Linked DNA regions of Homo sapiens: region 1 is linked to region 2. The links come from fine-mapping of genetic effects on gene expression. A gene starts in region 2. The other region holds a variant in brackets. All regions are shown on one strand. Distances are between the middles of the regions.

Evidence for each region. PIP is the estimated chance that this variant, and not a neighbour inherited with it, causes the effect.
Region 1: its variant is fine-mapped to the expression of PIK3C2B in whole blood (TOPMed, PIP above 0.99).

Annotation. Positions count from the first base shown.
Region 1 is chr1:204,450,389-204,465,116 of GRCh38, forward strand. It overlaps PIK3C2B (phosphatidylinositol-4-phosphate 3-kinase catalytic subunit type 2 beta), which reads right to left. Exons shown (of 33, transcript NM_001377334.1): 4 at 14,062-14,216; 5 at 13,624-13,744; 6 at 10,162-10,273; 7 at 9,936-10,015; 8 at 9,490-9,553; 9 at 7,340-7,486; 10 at 6,649-6,682; 11 at 5,468-5,663; 12 at 4,281-4,403. Among named protein-coding and RNA genes, the nearest start is that of PIK3C2B, 37 kb to the right of the region's middle. RefSeq lists enhancers at 2,740-2,849, 4,442-5,419, 6,927-7,428, 7,429-7,928 and silencers at 6,799-6,999, 11,813-12,107. The variant C/T (reference allele first, on the strand shown) is at 4,727.
Region 2 is chr1:204,488,065-204,502,792 of GRCh38, forward strand. PIK3C2B (phosphatidylinositol-4-phosphate 3-kinase catalytic subunit type 2 beta) reads right to left here and starts at 6,741. Exons shown (of 33, transcript NM_001377334.1): 1 at 6,292-6,741. It overlaps LOC124904584 (translation initiation factor IF-2), which reads left to right and starts at 3,687. Exons shown (of 2, transcript XM_047439554.1): 1 at 3,687-3,697; 2 at 6,112-7,668. The coding sequence starts at 3,687. The coding sequence ends at 7,132. RefSeq lists silencers at 4,782-4,861, 6,421-6,890 and enhancers at 5,931-6,120, 6,191-6,320.

The DNA of each region.
Region 1 (14,728 bases), 38 kb before region 2:
AGAGGGTCCGCAAAGCTACTCCTTTTGTCCTCCTTTTCCATTTGACAGTCTCCATCCCTCCCCCACTTCTTGCTGCTGAGAGCCACCAGGAAGAAGCACCATGTTCTCTGCCCTCGGTTCACCCTCCCCCACAGCCCTCTCACTTGTCCTCATAGGAGTCCCCTTCACCTAGCCCCAGGGACACACACTGGGTTTTTCTCACCCCCACCCCCAAACAGCTTCAAAGCCAAAGGGACAAAGAGGAGGGGTTTCTCCAAGTACCCCAGTGGTGAGAAAGCCAATGGCAGGGCCAAGAGAACTGAGACACATAAGCCCCACCACTATTCAAGCCCATAAGTTCTCTCCAGGTCCCTCAGTCTGAATCACACCTAGCCACTCCCTCTAAGCTCAGGATAAGGAACTGCTGGGTGGGGTGAAGTACACAGGGGAGGGGAGCTGTGGAAAGGCAGGGAGGACCCACGTTACCTTTCGGGGAAGCTGTCCCTGGGCCAAAGTCCATACTGTCACACCCTCCTGGCCAGCCCAGGGCCCAGCAACTTCTATGCCAGAGGGCGCAGAGGCAGGGCGGCCACCCCCAAGGTTGGCAGTTTCATGATAAAGCAGCCTGCCTCCACCGCTGTCCTCCAGAGGAATCTCCACCTAAGTGAGGCACTCCCTCCAGCCCACCACAGACTGGCAGAGCCCTGCTCTGTCCCAGCTGCCTCTACCCTGGGGGCCCACAGCTATAATTAGGGCCCCTCCAGCAGCCAGCAGACATGCCAGGCCAGGGCTTGGCTGGAGGTGACAAAGCACGGCTGCTGAGCCTATTTTGAGAGTTAGCTGATCCCTGGACCGCTACAGTGGGGCAGAGAATCAGCTGACCCCATAGCAAAGGGGAGAGGGAGCTGGTCCTGAGCCCTTTCTTTTCACCCAAGGAAGAAGCTTCCAGCTTCGTGTCTTAAGGAAAAGGGGAGTGAGAAGACTTTATGAGTGAAACCAGAGCCAGCCAAGGCCCTCTTCCCTTCAGTCCTTGGGTATATCTGGTATTCCACAACCTCTCCCACAGATCTTCACCCAGGGCTGGTCAGGATAACCATTATGTTGGCTGCAGCCCTTACCTTCCTCCCTGAGAAGCCCCTCTCCTTCCTGCAGCCCATTCAACAACCTCATATCACACAGGCTGCCTCCTCCAGGAAGGATTCCTGGAATGTGCTGGTTGGCTCCAGTCCCGGTTCTGCCACTCACAATCCTGGGCAACTTAATTCCCATCTCTGTGCCTCAGTTTCTCATCAGGGAAAAGGGGAACATAGCTTCACTTGCATGATGTGTGTGCAGACTGTGTACTTTTTGCTATGTGATGCTGTGGTTACTGCACTGGCACTGGCTTATACAGATAGTATTTTCATGCGCACGTATCCCCATGTATCAGCCAGTCTGTCAGTCACTTGGAACAGAGAAACCAAAACCAAGAGGGCTCCCCAGCTAAGAAGCCTGTGCCAAGTACTTTATTTACAGTGTCCTAACTGCTCCTCAAACAATCCTGTAGGGTAGGCCCTATTATCGCTACCATTCTAGGTTGAAAGACCTGCCCCAGGCTGCAACTACAGTAGGAAGGAGAGAATGACTGGCCCAAAGACTGTCCTCTGAACGCTGGCACGCCTTCCCCCAAATGTCCTGGTCTTGACCATGAAGGGCCAAGAAGTCTCATTCGGGGCTTCTGGATGGACAGTGCAAGATAGTGCCCTTCACAAGGCGCTAGGCAGGGGACTGCCCCTTTAAAATTCAAGGTGGGGATCTCAGGGAACAAAATGAAACTCATGGGGCAGGCTGGGCTGCCTCTCTACCTCTGATACTGTATGAGTAAAGGGTTTAAGGCCAATTTTTTAAAGTTCCTCCTGGGCCAGAACACTGTGCAGCACCCTTTTTTTTTTTTTTTTTTTTTTTTTGAGACAGGGTCTCGCTCTGTTGCCGAGGCTGGATACTCACTGCAGCCTTGACCTCCCAGGCTCAAGTGATTCTCCCACCTCAGCCTCCTAAGTAGCTGGAACCACAGGTGTATGCCACCACACTTGGCTAATTTTTTGTATTTTTTGTAGAGATTGGGTCTCCCTTGTTGCCCAGGCTGGCACCCCTTCTCTTGACAGCAGCAGTAATTGTGACCAAAAAATCCCAAGGGAATGGTGGAACTCAAGGGCCATTTAATGCAGCTATCCTCTGCCTGCAAGGAGTTTCTCCTGTCCTGGCAGTTGTTTGCTTGAGGACCTTTAATGCACACCCCATGTCCTTTTTTTTTTTTTTTTTTTTTAAGATAGGGTCTCACTCTGTTGCCCAGGCTATAGTGCAGTGGTGTGATCATGGCTCACTGCAGCCTCGACCTCCCAGGCTCAAGTGACTCTCCCACCTCAGCCTCTTAAGTAGCTAGGACTACAGATGCACGCCACCACACTCAGCTCATTTAAAATAATTTTTTAGTAGAGATAAGGCCTCTTTGTGTTGCCCAGGCTGGTCTCAAATTCCTGATCTCAAGTGATTATCCCGCCTTGTCCTCCCAAAGTACGGTGAGACTACAGGTGTGAGCCATCGTGCCCAGCCATATACACCTTTATTGCTCTAAGAATTACCTAAGTGTGAAGGGCATGAGAAAGGGTCCATTTTCCCAGTTGTCCATCTGTAAAAGGACCCACCTCTTCCAGCATCTCCAGATTCTTCATCTACCTATTTTGCATCCTCGGCCTCCCCAGGACCCTCCTCAGTCTCTTTAATCTGTGCTACAAATACTTAGCTTGCAGTGCTGCTCTGCAAATGAGGACTCTAATATAGTCAGTGTGGGGAAGCAAAGCCGGGGGCAGCAAACAGGGGATTTTCTGACTGACTGGAAGGAAGGTAGAGCATAGCACAGATGAAGCACAGGGCAGGAAAACCCCTGCGGTGCCCCCATTCAAGCAAGGCACCCTCTCCTCCGTTTCCTTCCTGCTTTGCTTGGCTGACGCCTACCTTCCCGACACCAAATTATTGTTTACATGTGGTGATTAATATTACCTTGTGCTTTTGGTTTCATATTTATATTTATAACCCACCTATCTCATCTCGACGCCATAACTGCCTCTGAGTGAAACCAATGTCCCCATTTCTCAGTTTGAAAAAATGAGGCACAGAAAGAATAGAGAGAAAGTAGTATTCGAGACAGAGCTAGAAATAGAGGCTCACTCCTGGGAATCCAAGCTCAATATTCTTTCTCTAGACAACCCTCCCTTCTCTATATATAAAGGGAAAAGCACAGTCTCCTCTCCATAGTCTACAGGAACTGAGGGAAGAAGGGAGAGGATGAGAAGCCCTCCAACTAGTTAAACTCTTTAAGGGAGACAAGATCAAAAAATAAAGTATTATTAAAATTAACAACTAACATTTAATTTTTTTTTTTTTGAGACAGAATTTCGCTCTTGTTGCCCAGGCTGGAGTGCAATGGCACGATCTCAGCTCACTACAACCTCCACCTCCCGGGTTCAAGCGATTCTCCTGCCTCAGCCTCCCTAGTAGCTGGGATTACAGGCATGCGCCACCATGCCCGGCTATTTTGTATTTTTTTTAGTAGAGACGAGGTTTCTCCATGTTGGTCAGGCTGGTCTTGAACTCCCTGCCTCAGGTGATCCGCCCGCCTCGGCCTCCCAAAGCGCTGGGATTACAAGCGTAAGCCACCGCGCCTGGTCAACAACTAAAATTTATATGTTTTTTATGGTTTACAAAGAGCCTTTATAGATACTTCTCATTGGATCCTCATGACAACTTGAGAAGTGGTAATTATACTTGGCTCCTTTAAGAGTCAGGGAAGTGGAGGCCAGGCGTGGTGGCTCACGCCTGTAATCCCAGCACTCTGGGAGGCCGAGGCGGGCAGATCACGAGGTCAGGAGATCGAGACTATCCTAGCTAACACATGGAAACCCCATCTCTGCTAAAAATACAAAAAATTAGCTGGGCGTGGTGGCGGGCGCCTGTAGTCCCAGCTACTCGGGAGGCTGAGACAGAAGAATGGCGTGAACCCAGGAGGCAGAGCTTGCAGTGAGCCGAGATCGCACCACTGCACTCCAGCTTGGGCAACAAAGCGAGGCTGCCTCTCAAAAAAAAAAAAAAAAAAAGAGTCAGGGAAGTGGAGACTCAAGAGGTTGAATGACTTGTCCAGTTAGGGTTAACAAGGAGCCTGGTTTTATCATTAGTCCTGGACTAGTTATCTGGCCCCAGGGATATTTCAGAGGCTGAGCAGGTCTACAGTGGCCTGGGCACTGAAGCCTGGGGGAAGGGCTTACTGCTGGTCCCAGACGATGAGGTGGAAGAGGTACTTGGAGAAGTGAGCTCTTCGGGTCTGCAGGGGGCTGCACAGCTCCTTGCCGCCATGGCTGAGGGAGCAGGAGAGGTAGAAATCTTCATAGCTATAAAAGAAAGGGAGCAGGTCAGGACACCCAGCTCCCAAAACCAATCACCCAAACCTATGCGTCCCTCTAAGGCCAAAATCCATTTCCCCTGGTAAAACTCTCAGTCTCTGAGGGCTGTAACACAGGATCTCCGGATAGGACAGCCAAACTGGATGTAAGGAAATGTGCTCAGGCCAAAGCAACTCAATCTAGATTCCTCTGCTCGGTTTTAGGCTCCATTCTGAGCCTTGTTGTTTTTCTTCCTTTAATGGGAACTGGCCACCCAGCCTCTTTATAGAAAGCTCCAGCCCATGGAGCGTCTGTGTGTGCGTGCGTGTGTG[C/T]GCGTGCACGTGCATGCGCAAGTGAGAAGGGTGGGGGAGGAAGACGACATATGCCGACATGAATGCCAACACACGGGGGTCCCTGTGGCTCATGACAGGTGCCTGACAGAAGAGGTCAGAGAAGGCCCCGGTTTCCCAGGCTGCCTCCTTTGTTCTCTGCCAATCGCCCAGAGGAATACATTAAGTAAGGAACAAAGAGAGAAGGGGAAGGGGGTTGGGGAAAGGGGACCGGCAGGGGCGGGGTAGGGCCCAGTGCCTATTCCCTCAGGCCTTGGATGCTGGGGACCCAACAGAGGCGCTGAGGATTTTACCAAAAGAACATCCTCCTCCACCCACCCCTGCAGGCCTAGAGAACCCCAGACAAAGGGTCAATCCCACCTCCCCACCCCCTCCCACTGGCCAGGGAGCGTGCACTCTATCTGGGAATCGGCCATCTGTTGCCATGTCTCCTTCCACTGGTCTTGGATCTGGAGGGGGCAGGGATGCAGAGGCAGCCAGCACCAAGAGGGAATAACAGGATCTTCTTCATCTCCTAAGGGACCTCCTCTCTCCTCTAGGATGTCCCCAGCCCAAGTCCTCCTCAGGCACTTGGCTCACCCCCGCAGCCCCATTGCACCACAATGTCACACAATGCCACACATCCTAAGACTTAGGACAGTGGTATTACATGCAGATAGGAAAAAGCCCTGGTGGAGGTCAAACTCAGCTTGCTCCCTAGCGGCTACTCAGCCCTGGGCTCACCTGGTAGCCCAGATGATGGGGATGCGGTGGGTGGCATAGACAGTGAAGGCCAGGGACCTGGCGAAATGGCAGGCCTCCTGGACCAGGTCATGCTTGCGGCTCCCGGGCACTGCCGTCTGGAAGTCTGCGTTGAATGTGTTGCAGTACAGCTCCACCAGGTCCAAGATGGCAGCGGTCAGGGCTTCCACGACCTTCTCTGGGAAGGGAAGGGGTCAGAAGGGAAAGTCATGAGGCCTCCACAAGCCCTACCTTGTTGCCATGGCATTGGCTAGAATGGGATGGCCTAAGACAGTGGTCCCCAAATGCTAGTCAGTCTCTAATAGCTGTGACAAAGTTCACCCATCTGCGGTAAAATGAGAAAAAAGCAGAAGCATGTCATGAGCTTTTCATAAAATGACAGTTATACAATGTTAAACATAATCCTTATTTTTACGTATTGCTACTTAGCATTAAAATGTCCTTTCTTTTAGGAAACAGTGTTAATAATTATTGTCAGTTGCTTCAAAAAAGCAAAAGTCAAAAAAGTTTGGCCAAGTAAAAGGCTGCCAATTCTCTCTTGGTCCCCCAAATACTTTGGGGGACATTTTACTGGTCTATGAAATCCAAAAGACTGGGAATCACCATAAGAATCCCAGGGATGCCAAAACAAAAAACAAAACCAAAACAAAGGAATCCCAGGGATATAGGTCAGTCTTAGGGCAAAGTTCAGCTTGAAGGGCACAACAGGGGAATCCTAGAAAAATCGTAGGGAAAATTCTTTCTCATCCTCTCCCAAGGCCCACTCTAAATCGGAAAGGTAGCAAGTGTGAGCTGTTGGGAGAATAATCACAATCTACCCAAGTGGGAGGCTTCCCATCTGGATCACAGGGCTAGTGCTGCCCCACCACCCCACTCCCACACTTCTACCCCCTCATCATCATCTCCCAGGGACACCAGGAGGAATGACTAGGAAAAATAATAAGAAAACACTTTGTGGAAAGAAATGTGCTCTCCAGCTGTATCCACACCTCATATAGGAACACACACACACACACACACACACACACACACACCCACACACACACACACACCAGCCGAACTCCGACACATAAATCAAGGGGCCCAGGCAGAAAAAGGAATCGGGGCAGAGACTGCAGTTTTCGGCAGCCCGACTGGATGAAGATGGAGAGCAGTTCCCTTACCTCGGTTTTCCCTCACAGCCAAGACACTGGGATCCTGTTGGGAAAAAGAAGAGGGAGGGGAGCTTCAGGGCCATAGCCTTTTTCGTCACAGCTGGAAGAAGGGCTTTTCACAGCTGCGCTCATCTGGACCAGAATGGGCTGAAATGTGAGTAGCTGAGAATCCCCAGAGAGGAGAGAGTAATGGTTTGTACCAGATCTGTATGATGGACAGAGTGAGCTGACGGAGGATAGCAATCATCGGGTCCACCCTTCTGAGATATCCCAACCCTCAGGCTACTCGGCTGCAGATCACAGTGCCTATGGTGCTGGCCCTGTCTGCAGAGCACACAGCCCCTGCTGGAGTCCTGGAGCCCCTGGCTCTAGAGAGATTTTCCTCCTGGTTTGTTTTTGCACCCTGATGGATATGCAGACTGTCAGGCAATGCCTTGGTGACTGTGAATAAAGCCTTTACTGGCCTGGGCTCTCAACAAGCAGTCCCAGGTAGCTCTCCCTCAACCTCAGGAAGAGGAGACACACTTGGCATCCATTTCTGAAGAGCTCTTGCGGTTGAATTCCTTAAACATAAAAGATGGAGGTGGAGAGAAGCCCCTTTTTAGTGAGTGAACACCTACACACTCTAGCAACAGGCAACTCAGTTACCTGACAGTATCCCTCTCTTCCTTTCCCCTGCTAGCACCCTGGGCCCCTTTACCTTCTGAATTTTAGGCTGCATGCGGGAGGGGCAGGGGGGCAGCTGGTTGAGAGCACTGGTGATCTCAGGGGTTTCCACGGCGGCCAGGGCGTTGCAGATGGCCTTGACGGACTGGACCACCCTGTCAGCCTTCAGTGGGAAGTCTCCCTGTGGGAGGTGGCACAGTGAGGCTGGCAGGCTCTGCTCTCATGCTCTTGGTCTCCAACCCCTCCCCACCCCAGTCTTTAAAGGAAAGGGTTGGGAAGAGTAGAGAGATTCATGATCCTCAGGGGTAAATGTGCAATACATTTTATTTTCAAATATTCATCATCAGCAAATAATCTCTCCCACTGAATTCAATGGGCCATGCCCACATGCCCCAATTCTTTCAGCCGTTCCCCTTGAAGCTCCTCCTATCTCTAGCCTCTCTCTATAGTTAGTCTACTTATACTATACACATATATACAGGGTCTCTCCCAGAGACCTGTAGAATTTCCAGACAGATCTCATCTCATTTCTACAGACATGCCACAGCCATAACCTCCCCTCTGGAATTATGCTCCTGGAATTCCCTCACCTGTCCAGCTCTGATTACCTATGTACATTTAAATCACAGAGCAGCTAAAATTCTACCTCCTGCATAAAGCCCTCCCTGGCCAATCCCCTTCCTCTAGCATCCTCCAGGAGCCCTTAATTAATTTATTACCATCCTGTTCTGTCTACTAATAGCTTTGTGTTACTATTCAATTTTTCTAACAAGAACACAAGCTCCCCAAAGGCTATGACAATTTTTTTTTTTTTTTTTGAGACGGAGTCTTGCTCTGTCACCCAGGCTAGAGTGCAATGGCGCGATCTCGGCTCACTGCAACCTCTGCCTCCCGGGTTCAAGCAATTCTCTTGCTTCAGCCTCCTGAATAGCTGGGATTACAGGCGCCTGCAACCACACCCAGTTAATTTTTGTATTTTTAGTAGAGATGGGGCTTCACCATGTTGGCCAGGCTGGTCTCGAACTCCTGACCTCAGGTGACCCGCCCACCTCAGCCTCCCAAAGTGCTGGGATTACAGGCGTGAGCCACCGCACCTGGCCAAGGCTATGACGATTCTTACACTTCTCTACCCATCGTAGCCACTAGCAAAGGGCCAGAACAGCACAGCACAGGTGTTCAGAGAGCTTCCCCCGCATCACTGGAAATGTTCAAGCACAGGCTGCTGGAGAAGGGATTCTGGCAGTGACTAGACATAATGCTGAACCCCTCAAAAAGGAAGCGTTTATGACTACTATTAACTGGATCAATGAGACAGGGATTGGTTTTTGTTTTGTTTTTTGAGATAGGGTCTCACTCTGTCACGCAGGCTGGAGTGCAATGGTGTGATCATAGCTCACTACACAGCCCCAAACTCCTGGGCTCAAGCGATCCTCCCACCTCAGCCTCCAGAGTAGCTGGGGCTACAGGTGTGTGCCACCATACCTGGCTAACTTTTGTATTTTTTGTAGAGATGGGGTCTTGCTGTGTTGCCCAGGCTGGCCTTGAACTTTGGGGTTCAAGCAATTCTCCCACCTCAGTTTCCCAAAGGGTTAGGATTACAGGCGTGGGCCATCACACTCAGCAAGGGATTATTTTTGAAGATCACTGTCAGATTTTCTTTGGCGTTGTGACATTTAAGACAAATGTTGACTCTCATGGTTTTGAGGCTTGAGACTCCGCATGAATCCAAGTGGGGAGGGCTCTGGCCCTCCCTACATGTGAAACCTTCTACCTCCTGATGGTTTCCTACCTGCGATAACAGCAAAACAGAACCTCTCAAACTGGAGGTTTCTGACATTGCTCATAGGATGCATGCTCCAGTGTACATCAAGTGCAGCAGCTGGGGGGTGACAGCTCTAGGTTCCTTAGCTCTGGAGACATCCTATTCCAGAGAATGGGACCAGCATGCAGTTTCCGACCTGCTTCTTCTATAGAGGAGCAGAATCCCTGACTACGCACTTGCCGTTGCCCAACATCTAGTAGTCTTAGTTTGCCCATGAGCGAGGGGTTAAAAAGAAGTGCTCTGCCAACAGATTTTCAGGCTCCACCCAGACCCCTCATAGTGCTGGGTGATCCCAGGAGGACTGAGGAAGGGGAGAGGAGGAGCTTTCGGGCAGCAGGGCCAGCCCCTGGATTCGTACTCACATCAGCCAGCAGGAAGGCATCCACCTCATTGTGGTAAGTGTCGAACAGAAGACTCAGGGCCTGCCTGGGAGTTGGGGGCAGGGAAAAACCACAGGAGAGGTCATGAAAGACCCAGTGCCCTGGGAAACCCATTTTCTCCCTCCCTCTCCTCAGCTCACACTCTGATTTAAAGGAGTTCCCACTCTTTCTATATGTCCTGTGAAGACATATAGAGGGAGAGTCTTTCTATTCTGCCACTTCTCGCCTGGAGAGAATGATGGCAAAGTTCCAGAGGGAAGAAATGAAACATGCCTGGAGTGGGGATCTTCTCTGATAAGATGTGTGGGCCCCAACCCCTGACACCTGCAAGAATCCCTTAGCCCTGACAGAAAGGCAAGCAGGCACATCTGATGGGATCCCTGCACAGTTCTTGTTTGGAGCACATCCAAGATGGTGCCCACACTCACCTGCTGATGGTCTGCTTGACAGGCCTCTCTTGGAGATGGACGAGGTAGTTCAAGGTGGAGGGGCTCTGGTCATCATTCACCTGTATAAGAAGTGACCTATTCAGAGAGGGGCGGTGCCCTTATCTCAGCTCAGCACTCCTACCCCCCTCCCACCTGATGTGTTCTATATTGTATTCCCATTCCACCTCCCCAGCCCTGGGCAACCCTCCACCACCCTCACACGAACCGTCCGGGCCAGGTCACTGCGCACAACCTTCTGCTCCATCAGCTGTAGCCGAATGTCAATGTCAAACTTGCGGCAGTATTGGATGTACTCATGACTGCCCAAGGCATGCTTGCTGGTAGGGTAGAGGGACAAGACCATTAGCATCCTGGGGACTCAGTGGCAAGGGAGATACATACCTTAGCCTTGGGGAGAGACATACAGAAAGAAGGTTTAGGTAAGGGGGTAGTACCCGTGTTGTACCCTACTTTGGCTCCTAGAAAATGACACGGTAGAGCTTAGGAGAAGGAACAGAGGTCTATCTAAACAAAAGCCACCTAATATACTTAATCCTTGGCCGGTATAAATATTGACTCTCTTAGATATTTATTACCCGTGTGGTAATCACTGGTTCACTCCAGGGCTGGGAACTGTTGGAGAGAGCGGGGAAACAGAGGCACATCACAGGGAGCAGTTGCTGAAGCCCTATCTTCTGGGCCTCTGTATAGGGGACAACCAGGAAGAGACATGTTGGAGTCCACCTGTGCTCAGGCTCCAGGGTGGGAGCTCAGCGAGAGACCCCTCTTCCAATGCTACCAACTAGGGTGCTGAGGCCAAAAAAACTTGGGGCAAGCCTACCAAGCCTCCAGATCAGTGTCCCCACCCAACTTCTTTTTCTGCCTTCCATCTGTTGGCCCTGCCTGCTTGTGAATAACCTTACAAATTTCTATGACTTCTTGAAAAGTCCCAAATGCATGCCAGTCCCACCTGCTCAAGCACCCATGTGTGAGACTCCCCCTTTCAGAGAGAAGGCCTAGGAGCCCTCGGCGATCCAACCTCTTCCTCTCTCCCAAATCACACCTTCAACAGCAAGGAAACCCAAGAGGAGGGGCAGAGGGAGAACTACCTCCAGGCCAGCACTGCAGGCCTGGGCCTGGCCTCAGCAGCTGGGTAACAGAAGCCGGAAAAGGACTTCCTTCCTCAGCAGAGCTGGGAATCTAGGCCAGAAATGGAGAGGAGAGGACAGGAGCATAAGGGGGGCAGTATATGTAAAAGCTGGCGGAGGTGCAGGGCCCAGGGTCGTCTAGGTCCCATGAGGGCTCGAGTGAGGGGTTCTCCACATCCTGAGAGGACCAAATCTCCGATCTAGACCCTCTCAGATCTAAGACTGAAGTGCAGCCAAAACCTGGAGGTGGTGAGGCTGGGCTGTGGGGCTGGGCCTGGTGGGAGAGCCTGGGAGGAAGGAAGAGTGTGGTGGGGCTGGGGGAGGTGGCAGGAAACCCAACCCTCCCACGGGACTGCCTCAAGGTTCTTATCTGAGAGCAGCCTGCATCCTGAACCCACTCACCCCCTCAGTATCAGCCCCTCCTGCCAGGCAGGGGTAGAAAATCTCAGGGCTTCCTTGGGAACTAGCAGATTTCTGGAACCCCCGGAGCGTCCTTTCCACCCCCATCCCAGGCAGTTGTCATGTGTTGGGGGTCTGGGGGCTGGGCCAGGAGACAGCATTGTGCTTTTCTGTTGGGTGGGAGTGGGGCTCCTAGGCCAGGAGTCATGCACACAGGTCCCCTGGGGACTTGCTTGATCTTCTCTGTGGAAGGCCTTCCTCTCTGTGCATTCAAGTGAGAGTATGAGGGGTGTGATCTGAGGACCGCTGACCCTGTCCCACCTCACTAAGAATATTTCACCTGAGTCTTAGCAGGAAGGTAGAACTTGACAGCTCCCACTACCTCCGGACCCAGGGGCTCCAGGATTTGGGGTGCTGCAAGGGAAATGGCAGTATCTGTGCAGCCCAGAGCCCTAGGACTTCTCTCCGTGGGCTGCTCCTTCCCTGCTGGTATTTACTGATTGCTCACAGGTCATTCTCACATTTCACCCTCACTGCAGCTTACAGAGGGCCCTGAGCATCAATCAGCCTTCACAACTAGTAAGTGGCAAGTCCGAATTCAAACCTGTGTAATGGCGTCAGCAGGAGCTCCAACTTATCCACTATGTCCCCTTTTTCCCTTCTAACAGTGGCAGGCCACCTGGCACTCTCTCTGCCAGGCAACCCTGAGTCTAGGACCCCTCCTGTTCCTCTAGGGGAAAAGTGTGTACATAAGTGAGTTTAAAGGTGGGGCACATTTGAAGGGTACCCTGGAGTTGTACCATACAGAACCCTGCCTCTTTCCTTTCCCTTAGCTTCGAGATGAGGAGGCAGAGGCCAGAAAGGACCCCACAATATCCTTAAATTTGAAATAAGCCCAGATAGCTGGGCACAGTGGCTCACACCTGTAATCCCAGCACTTTGGGAGGCCAAGGCGGGCAGATCACCCGAGGTCAGGAGTTCGAGACCAGCCTGGCCAACATGGTGAAACCCAGTCTCTATTAAAAAATACAAAAATTAGCCGGGCGTGGTGGTGCTTATGCCTGTAATCCCAGCTACTCAGGAGGCTGAGGCATGAGAATCGCTTGAGCCTGGGAGACGGAGGTTGCAGTGAGCTGAGTGAGATGGCGCCACAGCACTCCAGCCTGCACGACAGAGTGAGACTCTGTCTCAAAAAAAGAAAGAAGTCCAGAAATGAATCTTCCATCCTGACTGCCAAATCTTATGCTCTAGACATAGATCAACCATCCTTGCATCTAGACCTGAATGTAAGAGAGAGAAAAAGCAAGCAGTGGCACTTATAGGGCACTCCTAAGAAGTGAGACACAGGTCTCTCCTTTCTCTATTCCCAAAACGTGCTTCCTCCAAGTGGACAGAGACTGGGGGCAGGAGCGGCTCTGAAGCCTAAGAGAGGAAAGCAGATCTTATCTGTCTGCTGTCACACAGCTGTACCATCTGAGAAGTGATAACCTTGCCCCTGCCTCTCTTCCACTGCAGCCCTCCAGAGCCCAGGGTAGTGGAAAGGGGGTTGCCTCAGCTGGTCCACATCAGACTTTCCAGGGAGGCTGCTTTCCAGAGAGGGCACTGGATGGAGAGGAGCTGGAGGCACGCCTTTGGGAGGAGGATAACTAGCTGCACGGGCCAGCTGGGGAAAAGACTTGTTGGCAGGAGAATGGGGAGAGACAGTAATTGTAATTTCTCCCCTGGGCTCCACAAGGGAACTTCTGCCCAGTCCTCATTTTGCCCCAGCCATAAAAACACCACACATAATCTAGAGCAGGAGATACAGCACTACCCATATAGTCTCCCCAAGCCCACCCCTCCCCACAAATACACACATCTCTCCATAAGCAGAATCTGCAAGCAGATATGACCTAGTCTTTGCCTAATCCCAGCTCCAAGCTCTTTCCACAGCAGACTTGGCTCAGGACGTCAGCCAACCCTGCTGGAAGACAGAGCTCCTGGGGAAAGTGCTACGTGGCCGAGAGTGTGCCCAGAAAGCAGGAGTCTTGACTGTGGGATTGGGGCGGAGCTGCCAGGCCGGTCCCAGCACCAATCCCATGAAGCCCCCTCACAATCTTACTACCAGGAAGGCAGGGGCTACCTCCCACCCATTCACTCACTTCTGCAGGAACTCCTCCAGCCCGCAGGGCTTTAGCACAAAGTCACCCACGTCCACATTCCTCAGGTCATCATGGGTGTAGCACAGGGTCTGGTAGATAAGCAAGTCTACAGTGGAGGAACCTGTGAAGGGTAAGGTAGGGGGAGCAATCATGATGGATGTCAAGGCAGATGGGTCTCAGTTTCCCCACCCTGATCCCCCTTTCCAGCTAAGTATTCTCCAGCACCATCACCAACCAGATAAAGCAGGCAAGTAGTTCAGAGTTGAGGAAAGTGACTGTACTAGAATGCTGGCCCCATAGCCAGCCCCTCACCCCCAAAGGAGCATCCTCACTGCCCTTCATCTGGGCCACAAGATGAGGTGGAAATCGAGTCAAAACACAGTCATCCCCACCCCACTTCAAGGGATGCTCACATCCTCTCCCCCCTCACTAACTTACAGTTGCAGGTGAAAGTGAGTGCCTCTTGAAGCCTGTCACACAACACAGTCACCTTCAGGTTGACCTCATCCCCGAGGTGCTCTGGGCTAGGGGTGACAGCACTCCAGACATAGCCAGTGAGGAAGTAGTCTTGGATGTCAGAGCCAGATCGAAGGCTGTACAGGAAGAAAAAAAACCCTCACTGTGCCTTTAGAAGAGAGTAGTCAAGAAGACATCTGTTGGGAACCTCATGCTCTGAGGCTCAAGAGCCCCTCTGTCCCCACTCAGCCCAGCCCTCCAAATTTGCAGGCCAGGATGGGGGCAGTGGGGTAGCAGCTCTGAGAAACCCCCTTCTTGACACTTCTCTTATAATTGCAAAATGTTTCCCACCATTGAACAGTACAAATAGTTCTAAAATGACAAAGCTTTCCATGCTAAGTTTAATGGAAAATTTTTTATGAATCCATTTCCTTTCTCTTTTAGTTCCAGATAACACTCTTATCGCCAGCTGGGGTGCATTTGCTCTTAAGGGCAACTGAGGGTCAGACTCTAGAGTGATCAGGATACTTTGACCATTCAATGGAGGTTTCATGAATTTTGCTAAAAATGTGAGACTTCTAAGATTTCAAAAACCCTGCAGACACTTGTTGTAGGAAGCATTTTCATAGCTATGAACTGAGATTTACTT
Region 2 (14,728 bases):
TTATTTCCCTCATCTTACGTATGAGGAAAGTGATGCACAGATAAGTTAAATAACTTTTCCAAGGTCATACAGCTTGTAAGTGGTGGAGCCAGGCTTTGAACCCAAGTAATCTGGCTCCAAAGCCGTGCTCTTAACCATCTGCCGAACTTGCACTGCCAGTCATTTGATAAATGAGTGAATAAATGTAAGAATGAATGAGAAGAGGCACTGAAGATGTTTTTGCTGAATGAACAATCAACCAATCATTAACCCACCTTTTGTCTCTACCCTGTATAATCTATAGGATTATCATGAGAGTCCTTCTCAAACTTTCCTTGCATTCAACTAGAGAATCTCTCCAAGTAATTCCCTATCTATCAGTATAGAATTCCTGTCAGTAACATTAAAAAGCTTGGTTTAATTCTTAGTGAACTACTCTTAGTGGACTAAGAACTATGAGTGAACTAAGTTTTCTCAGAACACCAAGCACTAGGCAAGGGTTTTACCTGTCCTCTTCACTGCTGTGCACGTAGAAGAGTGTCAGTGCACATTCAATGTACAATGGTGGAATGAATGCCCAAAAGATAAAATGCAAACTCCTTCAGTGGCTCTGGCGAGATTAAACTGCTTTCAGTTCACCTCATTCACCACACTCCATTCCCCATCCTGCCCCAATTCCTACTCATTGTTCAGATCTCTGCAAACACTTAATTTCCTCCAAGAAGTCTGACCATCAAAAAGGCCCCACTGATGAGTTCACAAGGCAACCCATATTTCCCCCACTCAATGACTTAAAAGTACCTAAAGTCACTAGTAAACAATCAAGATGTTAGTCAAATTAATGAATAAATGAATGAGTTCCTTTTTAACATGATCTGATAGACTTAAACCCTTGTGATCCTATTGTCTTCCAGAAATGACTTTAAGAACCACTTGTGTCATTACTGGCTCTTGGGGAAGCTCCATCTCATTCAGGACTCGAGCCTCATGAACATTTTTTTTCTCACAGTCCCCTTCAGCATAGCACAGAAGGAACACAGGTTCTAGAGGTTTCCTGACCTAGACTCAAATTTTGGCTCCTCTCAAGTTAATTGTACAAGCTCTTTATTATTATTATTATTTTCAGAGACAGGGTCTCACTCTGTCACCCAGGCTACAGTGAAACCTGGATGCAATCAGAGTGGTGCAATTATAGCTCACTGCAGCCTCAAACTCCTGGGCTCAAAAGATCCTCCCACTTCAGCCTCCTGAGTAGCTGAGACCACAAGTGTGCGCCATCACACCCTAATTGTTTTTATTTTTATTTTTAGTAGAGACAAGGTCTTGCTATGTTGCCCAGGCTGGTCTCAAACTCCTTGGCTCAAGTGATCATCCCATGTCAGTCTCCCAAGTGCTGAGATTACAGCATAAGCCACTATTCCTGGCCCCTATCTTTTAATTTAAAAAAAAAAAAAAATCTGCCTCCTTAAAGTCTAGAGTGAAAATCTAATATCTCTGGCTACAATGTTCCTCTCCCAGGATCCCAAAACAACCCATTTGCAAACCACCTCCCTTTTCTTGGTGAGAATTAAATCCACTCTACTGGTGCTCGCAGTCACAGCAATTTCTTTCACTCTCTGGGAGACACACAGCATGGCGAGTCAGGAATGGGACAAACACTCTGCTTTCAGAAAATGAGGGCTCTTAGGGAGACGTCAATAGTTGAAGGGCTCCATCATTACTACTATCTGGGCTTTGCTTAGTTTATTACCTGAGACAAAAAGAACTCATACCTGATTCTTCTACCTGGCAAGGCAAACTGTAGTTTTTCCTCAAAATGGAATCCTTTTGGCCCTCTACTCTTCTTCCCTCATCCTTATAACTTACGGTTTGCTGCAAAGGACGCCATCTAGTATGAGAGAAAGAGAGAAAGATGTGGCTGGAGAGAATGCTTCCACTCAAGCTTCTTCCTGGTGGGCTTGGCTTAGCGAGGCTTGAGGAATGAGCCACGTGTGTGAAACAACTCTCTAATATTAGGCACCCACCTCTATGGTGGAACAGTGGCAGGAGTGACACAGTCATGATGGAAGGATAACAGTTTCCAAAGAGGCAAACAATCTTTGGCTTCTCTGAAATACTGTGAAGCCTCTGCTAGGTGAGACTTCCTACAGAGAGTTCTCAGGAAGAGGAAGGAGTGAATTGCTAAGGCTTCCTTCAGCCACAGGTCTTATTTCTGCTTCAGGACTACAGTGAACCTCTCTCTTCTTCCTTCTCTATACCCTGAGGGCCTCTGCTCCCCAAAGCACAAATGTCTTCTGATTCTTTAGTCTCCTTAACCAGGGTGATGATTTGGGGTGAGTGAATTCCATCCCAATGTCCCAGTGTTTTGGGGAAGTAAATTTCCCAAAGACAAAGCCACTAATTGGGTCGGCACGAAACTCCAAAGTGTTGCAGGATAGGTCCTTTCACGGGTCATGTTGTGATCTGCGGGGTAGGCGTTCAGTTCCAGCATTGCTACTAACTGCATGACCTTGAGAAAGTCACTTTTTCTCAGGGAAGTGATGGCCCAGGTCCTTTCCAGTTTTGATACTCTATGTGATCTTACAAAATGCAAGAACAAGCTGGGAGAGGTGGCTCATGCCCGTAATCCCAACACTTTGGGAGGCCGAGGTGGGAGGATCACTTGAGACCAGAAGTTCGAGATCAGTCTAGGCAACATAGTGAAATCCTGTCTCAACAGAAAAAGAAAAAAAAAAAAGGCAAGAATAGTCCCTCAAGTTTCATTTTATAAAACAGATGCAAAATAAAGCAGATATGAAAATACCAAAACAAGAAATCTGCCTTAATTTCCCCAGGATCCTCCAAGTCCCAAACCTTCTATTAGTGTTGCTCAGAAGGCAGCAATATGACTTGATCAGATTATCCCACATCTCTTCCTTCCTTGGAAGGTAGACATAGAAATAAAAATGCATAGAAAAGCAGATGAGGCCCAGAAAAATTTATTATGCCTACATGCCCATGAGATGTCCCAGGCTGGTGACGTCTCATGGGCATTCAAGGAATCCATTAAGAATGAATTCTGAGGCTGGACATGGTGACTCACACCTGTAATCCTGGCCCTTTGGGAGGCTGAGGCAGGTGGATCACCTGAGGTCAGGAGTTCGAGACCAGCCTGGCCAACATGGTGAAACCCTGTCTCTACTAAAAATACAAAAAATTAGCCAGGCATGGTGGCACACGCCTATAATCCCAGCTACTCGGGAGGCTGAAGCACAAGAATCCCTTGAACCTGGGAGACGGAGGTTGCAGGGAGCTGAGATGACACCACTGCACTCCAGTCTGGGTGACAGGGTGAGACTCTGTCTCAAAAAAAAAAAATGAATTCTGAGGCTGGACATAGTGGCTCATGCCTATAATCCTAACCCTTTGGGAGGCCAAGGCAGGAGGTTCCTTTGAGGCCAGGAGTTTGAGACCAGCCTGGGCAACATACTGAGACCCCATCTCTACAAAAACTTAAAAAATTAGCCACATGTAGTGGTGCATGCCTATAGTCCAAGCTACTCAGGGTGGGGACTGAGGTCGAAGGATCACTTGAGCCCACTGCACTCCAGCCTAGGCAACAGGGAGAGACCCTGTCTCAAGAACAAACAAAAAGAATGAACTCCACAATTTTGCTGTCCCTTTCTGTTCTCCCAAGACCCAATATCTCTCTGAGTAGCACTGAGGCTATGAACACAGGGTAAGGAGTGAGACTGCTTGCTTCAAATCCCACCTCTATCATTTACTAGCTGGCTGACATCAGTGAGTGTTAGTGATTACATTACTTGCCAGCTCAGCATTATCCTCTCTATAGGCAGTAGCCAGCCTTTGGAAGGTGTTTATCCCTCCTCAATTCCTACAAATATCATGAGGCATCCTTTCCTTCTCTCCCAGTTCCCATCCTGCCAACACTATTTAAAGAAAAATACCCAAGGAATACAGCAGTTACCTTGGTATTGTCACACTACTCTTTCCTTAGCAAGAAAGAAAAGGTCCCAAAACATTCCCTACTCCATGTGGCCCTCAGATCCCACCCTATCCCCATCCCTCACAGATCTCCCTCCCTTATGTGGGAGGCTAAACCCAGTAAGAATAATCATTTGTAAAGTACTCTGTAGTTTTCAGGGTACTTTTGCACACATGATTCTGTTTAGTTCTTGGTAAGCAGCATTTCATTATTAATCCTGTGAGCCATGGCTACTCCCCCACCTCCATTTTACAAATATACAAACTAAATCTTAGGTCCACAAATTGTCTGTGCTCACATAGCTAAAAAGAAAGTCACACCAAGACACTGTTTTCTCTACTACTTCACATTATGATGTCCAAGTTCACATCCTGGGAACATGAGGAGCCTGAACCTTATAGCTAGTTACAAGCCCCTAAAAGGAACAGAGACCTCATTTTTCTACCCACTGGTCCAGGCCAGGGCCATCCCAGCTGAAGCACCACAGACATGATATAGATGCAAAGCACCAGGCACAGGAGGAGTGGGGACACCACCAAGCGGGGACCAAAGGCCCACGAGGGTATAGAGTATCTGCCAGAGCATACTAGGTCATGACAAAGACCAAAGGCATTCCAGACCACCAAGGAAGTCCAAAGGAGCTCCCCCAGAAACAGCCCAAGTCCCCAGATAAACTGACCCTTCCTCACCCAGCACACCCCCTTGGCCCTTTCTCACTCATGCTTCCAGTGGAGAAGGAAATAGACAAGCAGCCGGGTCTGAGAGCTTGATCAGATTCAGCCATACACACTCAGCAGTAAGCTCAGAGCCATGGCAATCAAACCTCAGGCTCACCCAAAGGCCAAAGGAGAAGCAGCCACAGCCTGGGTCTAGGGCTCCAGCTCAGAGCCACCATCTCTTCAGATGCTGGCTGCCAAGCAGAGCTATAAAATGTGCCTCGACTTAATTTTTCCATGGACACAACCTCAAGATGGGCCAGCCAGACTCTGGAGGAGCTGGGATTCCAAAGTCTCACTGCCTGTCTGCTCTGGGATCGGCAGCTGGAGTTGGGGAGAGGGAAGTATTTGGGGGTCGGCATTGCCACCTCCTGGGCCATTTCTCTTCCTAATATCTTCCCAAAGCCTGATGCAGCAACAGAGTAAGTTTTCATTCAGCACTGATTCAGGGTTGGAATTTAGTACAAATTGCTTACATCTGCCTGGCCATATCCCAAATAGGTAGTTTAGAGCAAGGAGGAGGGGCAGCATTGGCCCACTTCTTGGAGCCCGGGTAGCCGCCTGCTAAAGAATCTGGTGCCATGCTGGGACCAGCCAGCCCAGGGTACAAAACTCTCCAACAGAGTTGAGAAAAAACAGCCCAAGAGAGCTGCCAGAGACAATACAGCGATTCCATCCCAGGCATGATTGGAAGGGCTGGGGCAGGGAAGCTACGAAGACCCCAGAAGCGGGTGGAGAGGAGAAAAGGCAGGCCTGAAGGAGCAAGAGCAATGGCAGAAAACACACACACACACACACACACACACACACTTCAACATCAGCCAACTAGGGTGTGTGCACTAACCTCATACATTTGGTAACCTCTTCCCACAATCCAGAAGCCTGCCAAGCCCCTGGGCTCCCCACCCTACTCCACCCCACACCAGCTTGGCAGCCTTGCTTGTGCTTCCTGCTGCGATTGCTCCTCCAACATCAAAGTCACCGCTGTCGGGAGCTGAAAATGAGGGACAAGTATAGGCCAGGAGAGCAGCGCCTTCTCCCAGCACCGGCGAACTCAGGCCTGAGGGTCCCTCTCCCTCTTTCAAGCTTTCAGTCTCCTTTTGCTGCAGTATCCTTATAAGGGAGAATCCAATTCTACCCTCCGCCCGACTAAGAAACGTACACATTCCCCAGGCTAGATGCCGACTTCTCACCCAGTCCACAGAAGGCACTAACCCCATCACAGGACAGGTTTTGCTTTTTTTATTTCTTATCTTAAATAAACAAACCCCAAAGCCATTGACTGGTTCAGATCGCCCTGCAGCTGGGAGCCAGGAAGTGTGTTTAGCGAGAAGGGGGTGGGGACGCGGGTGCCTGGAGCCCCAGAGGCCCTGAAGCTGCTGGAGTGGAGTGGAGTGGGGTGAGGGGCAACCTGCTCTGCCCGGCGGGCAGGAGCTCAGGCTCCCACGGCGTCCGCCGCTCAGCCCGCCGCCAGGAACCCTCGGCTGCTTCCATTGTTGCACCTCCGCTGTTGCCATGTTGGAGGGAGAGCCCCCTGACCTCGGCTGCCTCCACTCTGGGGGCACTTTACAGACGCTGGGGCCGATGCAACCCGCAGGATGCGTGTCCTACCTGCGCTAGCTGCTGGCTCTGCTGCAACATCCGACGTGTCTTGTGCCTGGCGACGTGGGCTGCTCGCTCCGCGCCTCCCGGGCTCGCTCTGCGGCTCCAGGCGCCTCTTGCACCAGCGCGAGAGGAGCTGGCCGGCCGCACGCCGCCTGCTCCCGGGCCGCTCCCCTCTCCAGGCTCCGCACAGACCCTAGGCTCCAAGGGGCAGAGGGAGAGGCAGCAAAGGGCGCAAGGACCAGCTTGTGGGGGTGGGGAGGGGTGCTCTCCGCCGAGAGCGTGCGCGAGCTCGCAGAGTCAGGCCACCCCGGGTGAGACAATAGCGGCAGCAGCGGGCGAGAGAGGGGAAGCCATCTCCCGGACACCCGGCGCACTGCACGGCGACGCGACGCTCGGCCAGACCCTGCCTGGACAGGCAGGCACCCGGCCGCCGGCTCCAGCCGCAGCGCCGAATCCGCCGCGAGCCGGAGGGCGGGGCGGCTGCTGGAACCCGGGCCGCCCTTCGCCTCTCCCCTCCCCTTCCCCCTCCTCTTCTCTTCTCCTCTCCTCCTCTCCCCTCCGACTCCCGCCCCACTTGCCATTGCGTGGGGGAAGAGAAACGCGCTGGCGTCAAGTTGTGCTCTGCAACCCAAGAGCCAGGATTTCCACTCCCCACTTGGGTGAGGGTTTTTGCGGATGGTCGTTAGTTTCCCCTGCTGGAACCCCTTGGCTTTGGGTCAGAGGAAAGCTCAATCATTCTGCTAGAAATGACGGTGCTGAGGTCCAGTTATCCGTTTCAGGAATTTCTACCATAATTACGGTAGCGATGTTCGGGGGATCCCCTACCTTGAGGGTTAGGTTGGGGTAGAGAGAGGCTGTCTCCGGGCTTTACACGCTCAGTGTCATTCGTCTTTCTGTCTCCTTCCTTCCTCCCTTTCTGGAAGGGGAGTCTCGTTTGTTTTTGTATTCGCCCAGGTGGATCTTCCGAGCTGCGATCCAGGAAACAGCAGTCAACCTAAGTAGGGAGGGGAGATAGAGGATCCTCCAACCCAACTAGGGTAGTGAGAAAAAAAAGTAAAAAAAAAAAACCTTTCATACAATATGTTATATTTAAATTTTCTACTCTAAATACCTTTCTTCCAGCAGTGGTCTCTGGAAGAATTTTCCTAAAGGCTCCACCCAAAAGAAACCATGAGTTGGCCAGCTCCTCGTTTGCATTTGGTTTGCATAGTACCAACGATCACTAATCTCAAAGTATATTTTCCTAAAAACGTGAATCGTGTTTTCCTCCACTGCCCTCATTTCTTCTTTCTTTCTCGACAGACTATGAAGATTAACACCTGGTCCTCAGCCTCTCAAGTAAAACCATGATTAAATAAATTTGTTATGCTTTTCTCTGGTTAACTTGTCTTTTGTTATAGAAGTGTCGGCTGTGACTCTTATGATGGGGAGGAAAGGGATCACTCCCCTTTCTGATCCTACAGTGCCTTCTGTACCCAATGCTTGTGACTTTCAGTATTCCACTTCACCCTCTGAATATCAAGAATAGCGTCCTCACCTATCACGCTTTCGTAATGATCAAAGGAGAGAATGTAGGTGAAACATCTTGATAATTAACTGAAGGCAGCTTGGTCTGCACATATGTCATAATGTATATGATGCTACTCCTGATCTCAGGAGCCACAGGGGTTAAAAAACGTGTCCGTGCACTTCTTCACCATACAAATATTTATGACAGCTTACTCTGTGTCTGTCATCAGGTCAAGCTCAGGAGCCTGAGAGAACAGAGTGTTACAGGGGCCACTGGTGGTTCTTTTTTTTTTTTTTTTTTTTGAGACGGAGTCTTGCTCTGTCGCCCAGGCTGGAGTGCAGTGGCGTGATCTCGGCTCGCTGCAAGCTCTGCCTCCCGGGTTCACGCCATTCTTCTGGCCCAGCCTCCGGAGTAGCTGGGACTACAGGCGCCCGCCACTATGCCCAGCTAATTTTTTCTTTTTTTTTTTTTTTTTTTTTGTATTTTTAGTAGAGACAGGGTTTCACCGTGTTAGCCAGGATGGTCTCGATCTCCTGACCTTGTGTTCCACCCACCTCGGCCTCCCAAAGTGCTGGGATTACAGGCGTGAGCCACCGCGCCCGGCGACCACTGGTGGTTCTATGCTGCTGGGGTGAAAAGTCTGAAGGAAAGAACTAACAGGAAGTAGGCATAGGTAGCTGAGTGGAGGATCAGATCACAGGCTTTATCATGCATTTTGGTAAGGAAAAAATTGAATAAAGAGAAACCAGGGCATGCCAAAAAGTTTAGGTGCTGTAGGTGACAGAGAACCTGCTGTGCACAAATGGAACTGGGAAGTAGTGTGACCAGAAAAAGACTTCCTGGCATATTATAGAGAAGGATTTGGAAGATGCACTGCATGTCTTCCGTTTGCCCCTCCAGATCTTCCTGGCCCTCTGGCTTCCTAGACTGGGTTGGCCAATGGGGGCCATGGCTGAAGATTGAATAAGGAGGGAGGTCAGGGGAAACTGGATATTTATTCTTCAGGATTCCTCTCTTTGGGGTCACAGTGCGCTGGCTGCCACCCTCAACCAAAGATCACAGCTTCCACGGGTGGTTCTCTCTCCCCTCCCTCTCTCTTTTGTTTTTCTTTTTTTCTTTTTCTTGAGACCGAGTCTCACTCTATTGCCCAGGCTGGAGTGCAGTGGCTTACTGCAACCTCTGCCTCCCGGGTGCAAGCGATTCTCCTGCCTCAGCCTCCTGAGTAGCTGGGACTACAGGCGCATGCCACCATGCCCGGCCAAATTTTTTTTGTATTTTTAGTAGAGACAGGGTTTCACTTTGTTAGCCAGGATGGTCTCAATCTCCTGACCTCATGATCCACCCTCCTCAGCCTCCCAAAGTGCTGGGATTACAGGCGTGAGCCACAGTGCCAGCCCCCTCCCTCTCTCTTGATTCAGGTAATCACTCCCCTCCTTTGACTTTTCGGGCCTGGGGGTGGAAACATTGATTTGCTACTGGCCCTAGTAGATTGTACACTATTTCTTGTGGTTTTCCTGTACTCCGCCGACCCTTTATAAATTGTCCCCTTATTTTTTAACCTCTCCTCAAATTACCCCTCAAGTGCAGTGTGCCATTTGCTTTCTGCCAGGACCTAGTAACACAAGTCAGGAGTGCAGCCTGGGAGCTCAACAGAGAAACCATGGCTACGTTCCAGGTGGGAAATCAGGGAATCTCAAAACTGTGCCAGAGCTGTGGCAGTGGGGATGAAAAAAACGGAGCAGATACAAAAGATACTTATAAAGAGAAATCAATAGTATTTGATAAATATATAAAATGTAGGAAATTAGGGAAGAGGAGGACTCTGGAATTACTCCCCATTTGAAGCCTTAGAAATTGTTGGCAGGTGGTACCATTCCCTAAGTTAGGGACAATTAGAAAGACAGGGCCCAGGTGTTGGCAGAGGGATCTTGAGCTTAATTTTGAACATGTTGGGTTTGAGGTATCTGTGGAATGTCTAGATGGGGATGTCTAGTAGACAGCAAACTTATGAAACTAAACTCATATTGGGGTGTGAACAAGTGATAGCAGCTTTGGATTCTGTAGGTTATGGGTAGTCAGTGAAGTTATAAGCCTGTATGAGGTCGTCCAGATGGGCATAAGGAGGAAAGAAGAAACAACCAGAGAGGTAAGAGAAAAACTGGAGGCCACAGAGTGTCAGAAACTAGGGTGGGAGAATCTCAGAAGAGAATGACTGGATAACCAGTGCAGCAGGAACCTCCAGGAGGGTAGGCTAGAAAATGCCTCCAGTGGATTCTAGGCCTAATTCATTCCCTGATTCAAAGCTGGTGCTCAATAAATTATTGGTCACTAAGTGAATGAATGAACCTGGATCTGGAATAAAAGACACATGCTTTTTCTAGAAGCTTGGCAATTTAAGACAAGGAGAAATATAAGGCAGTGGGTAGAGGGGAATGCAGGATCAAAGGGGAGACTTTTGTTTTTTCTTTTTAGGATAAGAAAGGCTTAAGCATTTTCATATGCTGAAGAGTAAGACCAAGGAGAGCGAGATCATGAATAGGAGGGAGTTGGGACCCAGGTATATGGGGTGGAGCTGCCTCTGATATCTTTGAGAGGAAGGCTGTACAAAAGCAGAGGCATCTGTAGACTGGTAAAGAGACTAGAACTTGAGACTAGATGTTGAGAGGACTAGTTGCTGCCTTGTAGTCTCTAAGCAATCTGCTGAGAGAGAAAGGCTCAAGATGAGGTTAAAGGCTTAAAGAAAGTGGTTAAGGTTGCTGGGCACGGTGGCTCACGCCTATAATCCCAGAACTTTGGGAGGCCGAGGTGGACGCATCACCTAAGGTCGGGAGTTCCAGACTAGCCTGACCAACATGGAGAAACCCCGTCTCTACTAAAGATACAAAAATAGCTGGGCGTGGTGGCGCATGCCTGTAATACCAGCTACTCGGGAAGCTAAGGCAGGAGAATCGCTTGAACCAGGGAGGCAGAGGTTGCGGTGAGCCGAGATCGCGCCATTGTACTCCAGGCTGGGCAACAAGAGTGAAACTCCATCTCAAAAAAAAAAAGTGGTTAAGGTTAAAATAGAAAGGAATAAGGAATGAGAGTGGTAGCTCCAGAGAGAGGAGAGAGAGAGAGAATTGTCAGCAGAGTTGAAGATACAGCTGGCATTGGATACTCTAATATGTTGTGGCTATGAATAAAAACATCCGAATGTTTTCATCATTTTCTTCTGCAGCACTTGGAAGCCCAGGTGTAGAACATGAGGTCAGGTTTCCAAGATAGGTACAGTAGAGGCATAAAAGGAAAAGAGGGCTCCTGACAAAAGAGGAAGTCCTCAAGGACGGAAGTGAAGCTCAGCAAAGGCTGTGAATCTTCAAGAAGCGGGAGGAAAGGGACTGAGCTACCTCTAATCTTATTCCCCTTCCAATCTTTTCTCAAGTAACCCAGCCAGGGTGATGTTTCCAAAGCAAACATCTGCTTCTCCTGCTTAAAATCAACTAACATGTAGGACATGGCATTTTTTGACTTTGGTTTTTAAACATCTGTATTCTCAGAGCCTAGAACAATGCCTGGCACTTGTGCTCACAAAATTTTTGGCAGATGAATTAATGCATGACTTTCTCTAACTCTTAAAGTCCAATCTCCTAAGGAAACTCTGAATTCTCTCACAGTCAGCCCTTGCTTTTCATTCTAGCCTCAGAGAACAAGGACTTTGTCTTGTGCATCCCTGCATCTCCCAAACTGCACCCACCACATAGTATTCAATAAATATGTATTGAATGAATAGCCTCCCACATTCCAATGTAAACTTCATACTTGGGCCTTACGAAACTCCCTACAGTTCCTAGAATGCACAATATTCTCACCTAACGGCCCTTCCACATGGTTTCCTGGAAAGGGCCTCCTACCTCCAATCCCCACCTCTACCCGCTTCCTTTTATGCAGCTGTCTCTCTACATGGTAGGCAGAATAATGGCCTCCCAAAGGAGGAAATGTCCACTTCCTAATCCCTGGAACCTATGGCTGCATTATTTTACAAGGCAAAAGGATTTTACGGATGTGATTAAGTTAAGGCCCTTGGGAGTGGAAGATTAGCCTGGATTATCCAGGTGGGCCCAATCTAATTACGTCAGTCCTTAAAAGCTGCAAACCTTTCCTAGCCGAAGTCAGGGAGAGATGTGATGACGCAAGACTGGTTGGAAAAATGCAACATTGCTGGCTTGAAAGTTGAAGCATGGAGGTCCTGAGCTGGAGGGGGTGAATGGCCTCTAGAAACTGGAAAGGTCAAAAAACAGATCCTGCCCTAGAGCCTCCAGGAAGGAACATGACCCTGCAGATACTTGATTTTAGCCCAGTGAACCCCATGTTGGGCTTTTGATCTGCAGAACTGTAGGATAATAAATTTGTGTTCCTTTAATCCACTAAATTTGTGGTCATTTGTTATAGCAGCAATAACAAACTAATACATCCTACAACAAATTCTCTGCAAAGTTTCCCTAGAGTGCCTCCTAAGAGTGTCTAGACACACCCAATAGCTACTTGGATTATAACACTGATCATGGGTGTTATATATAATTGCTTGTCCACTTTTTTCTGAATTGGGGAGGGGACAGAAGAGGAGGGCAACGGACTGTAAGCGCCTTAAAGACAAGGAATCTCCATTATTTTTACCTTTGAATTTCTAGGCCTAATTCATTGCCTCATTCAAAGCTGGTGCTCAATAAATTCTTGGTCAATAAGTGAATGGATGAAAACCTGGATCTAGTTTACAGGAAGACAGAGTGACTGAGCCAGAAAATGAAAAGCTTGAGAGTCTAAGATTTCAGTGGTGACCGGGTGTGATGGCTCATGCCTGTAACCCTGGCACTATGGGAGGCCTAGGCTGGTGGATTGCTTGAGCCCAGGGGTTCAAGACCAGCCTGGGCAATATGGCAAAACCTCATCTCTACAAAAAACACAAAAAATTAGCTGGGCATGGTGGTGTGTACCTGTACTACCAGCTACCCAGGAGGCTGAGGTGGGAGGATCACCTGAGTCCAGGAGGTCGAGGCTGCAGTGAGCCATGATGGTACAACTGCATGCCAACCTGGGCAACAGAGTTGAGGTCCTATCTTAAAAAAAAAAAAGATTTCAGTGGTAATAATAAGTAGATTACTGGTGAGGGAGCAAATGGCTGAAATCAATGGAAGGAGATGATGGTAGAATCTGTTTATCTGTGCTATATTCTCTCATAGGTCTGCTCTAGGCTAGGACTAATCTGTAATACAACTCAAAACTAATATTTTGAAAGACAGTATTTATAACAATTTTATTTTAAAATCCTTCAGTAGGCTTTCTTCAAAAATATTCAAATATCTTTGAAAGATGATTGGATGTTAGAGATGGGGTGGGGTGCTCTGTAAATATTTTATGTATAGATTGACTTCTTCAATCCTTTGACTCTTACTGGCTTTGAAATCAGTCCTACTTCTTCCCTACACCTTTTCAATGATCCATGACATTTGAGGGCTGCATTGTTTAGGGAGTATTTATTCCAGTATCTGAGCTCTTGATGCTATGTAAGATTCTTGGGCTCAGCCAGGCATGGTGGTTCATGCCTATAATTCCAACAGTTTGTGAGGCTGAAGCAGGAGGATCCCTTGAGCTAAGGGAGTATAAAAGTAGCCTGGGCAACATACCAAGACCCCATCTCTACGAAAACATTTTTAAAAAAAATTCACCAGGCATGGTGGTGCATGCCTGTAGTCCCAGCTACTCTGGAGGCAGAAGTGAGAGAATCACTTGAGCCAGGAGATTGAGGTCACAGTAAGCTATGATTGCAACACTGTCTCAAAACAAACAAACAAACAAAAACAACCTGTACTATACATCTTCTTAGTACCTTGTGATGGTGTCAGCTCCAAAGACTCTATGCACTATACTGTGGCGATAGAAGACTGGGCCCCAGAGTAGGTAGCTACGACTTGGTGTTGGTTTGGGGAACTCTGGGAAGGAAGGGTCCACAACTTTCCCCCTCTGTGCCTAGCTCACTGCTGTGGAAACAGTGGGTAATCAGATTGATGGTGATTTTTTTCCAAAGGCAGTAATTCTGATGAGAAGGAGGGTAAAAAACATCCCTTTAAAGATTATTATAGTAGGGATCAACAAAATGAAAAGGCAACATACAGAACGGGAGAAAATATTTGCAAACCATATATCTGATCAGGGATTAACATACAAAATATATAAGGAACTCATAAAACTCAATAGCAAAACAAAACAAAAACAAATAACCAGAATTTTGTTTGAATGTGCAAAGGACTTCAATCAACATTTTCCCAGAGAAGACATACAAATGACCCACAGGTATATGAAAAGGTGCTCGACATCATTAATCATCAGAGAAGTGTAAGGCAAAACCATAACGAGATATCACCTCACACCTGGTAGTGTGGCTACTCTCAAAAAGTCAAAAGATTACAAGTGATGTCGAGGGTGTGGAGAAAAGGGATCTTTGTACACTGTTGGTGGGAATGTAAACTGGTACAGCCATATGGAAAACAGTATGGAGTTTCCTTTAAAATATTAAAAATAGAACTACTGTAAGAACCAGCAATCCCACTTCTGGGAATATATCCAAAGGAAATGAAATCAGTATGTTAAAGAGAGATCTGTGCTTCCATGTTCATCGCAGCATTATTCACAATTGACAAGATGTGGAATCAGCAGAAGTATCTGTCTACAGGTGACTGGATAAAAAATATGGGGTCCGGGTGCGGTGGCTCATGCCTGTTATCCCAGCACTTTGGGAGGCCGAGGTGGGCAGATCACCTGAGGTCAGGAGTTCAAGACCAGTCTGGCCAAAATGATGATGAAACCCTGTCTCATTAAAAATACAAAAATTAGCTGGGCGTGGTGGCAGGCGCCTGTAGTCCCAGTTGCTTGGGAAGCTGAGGCAGGAAAATCACTTGA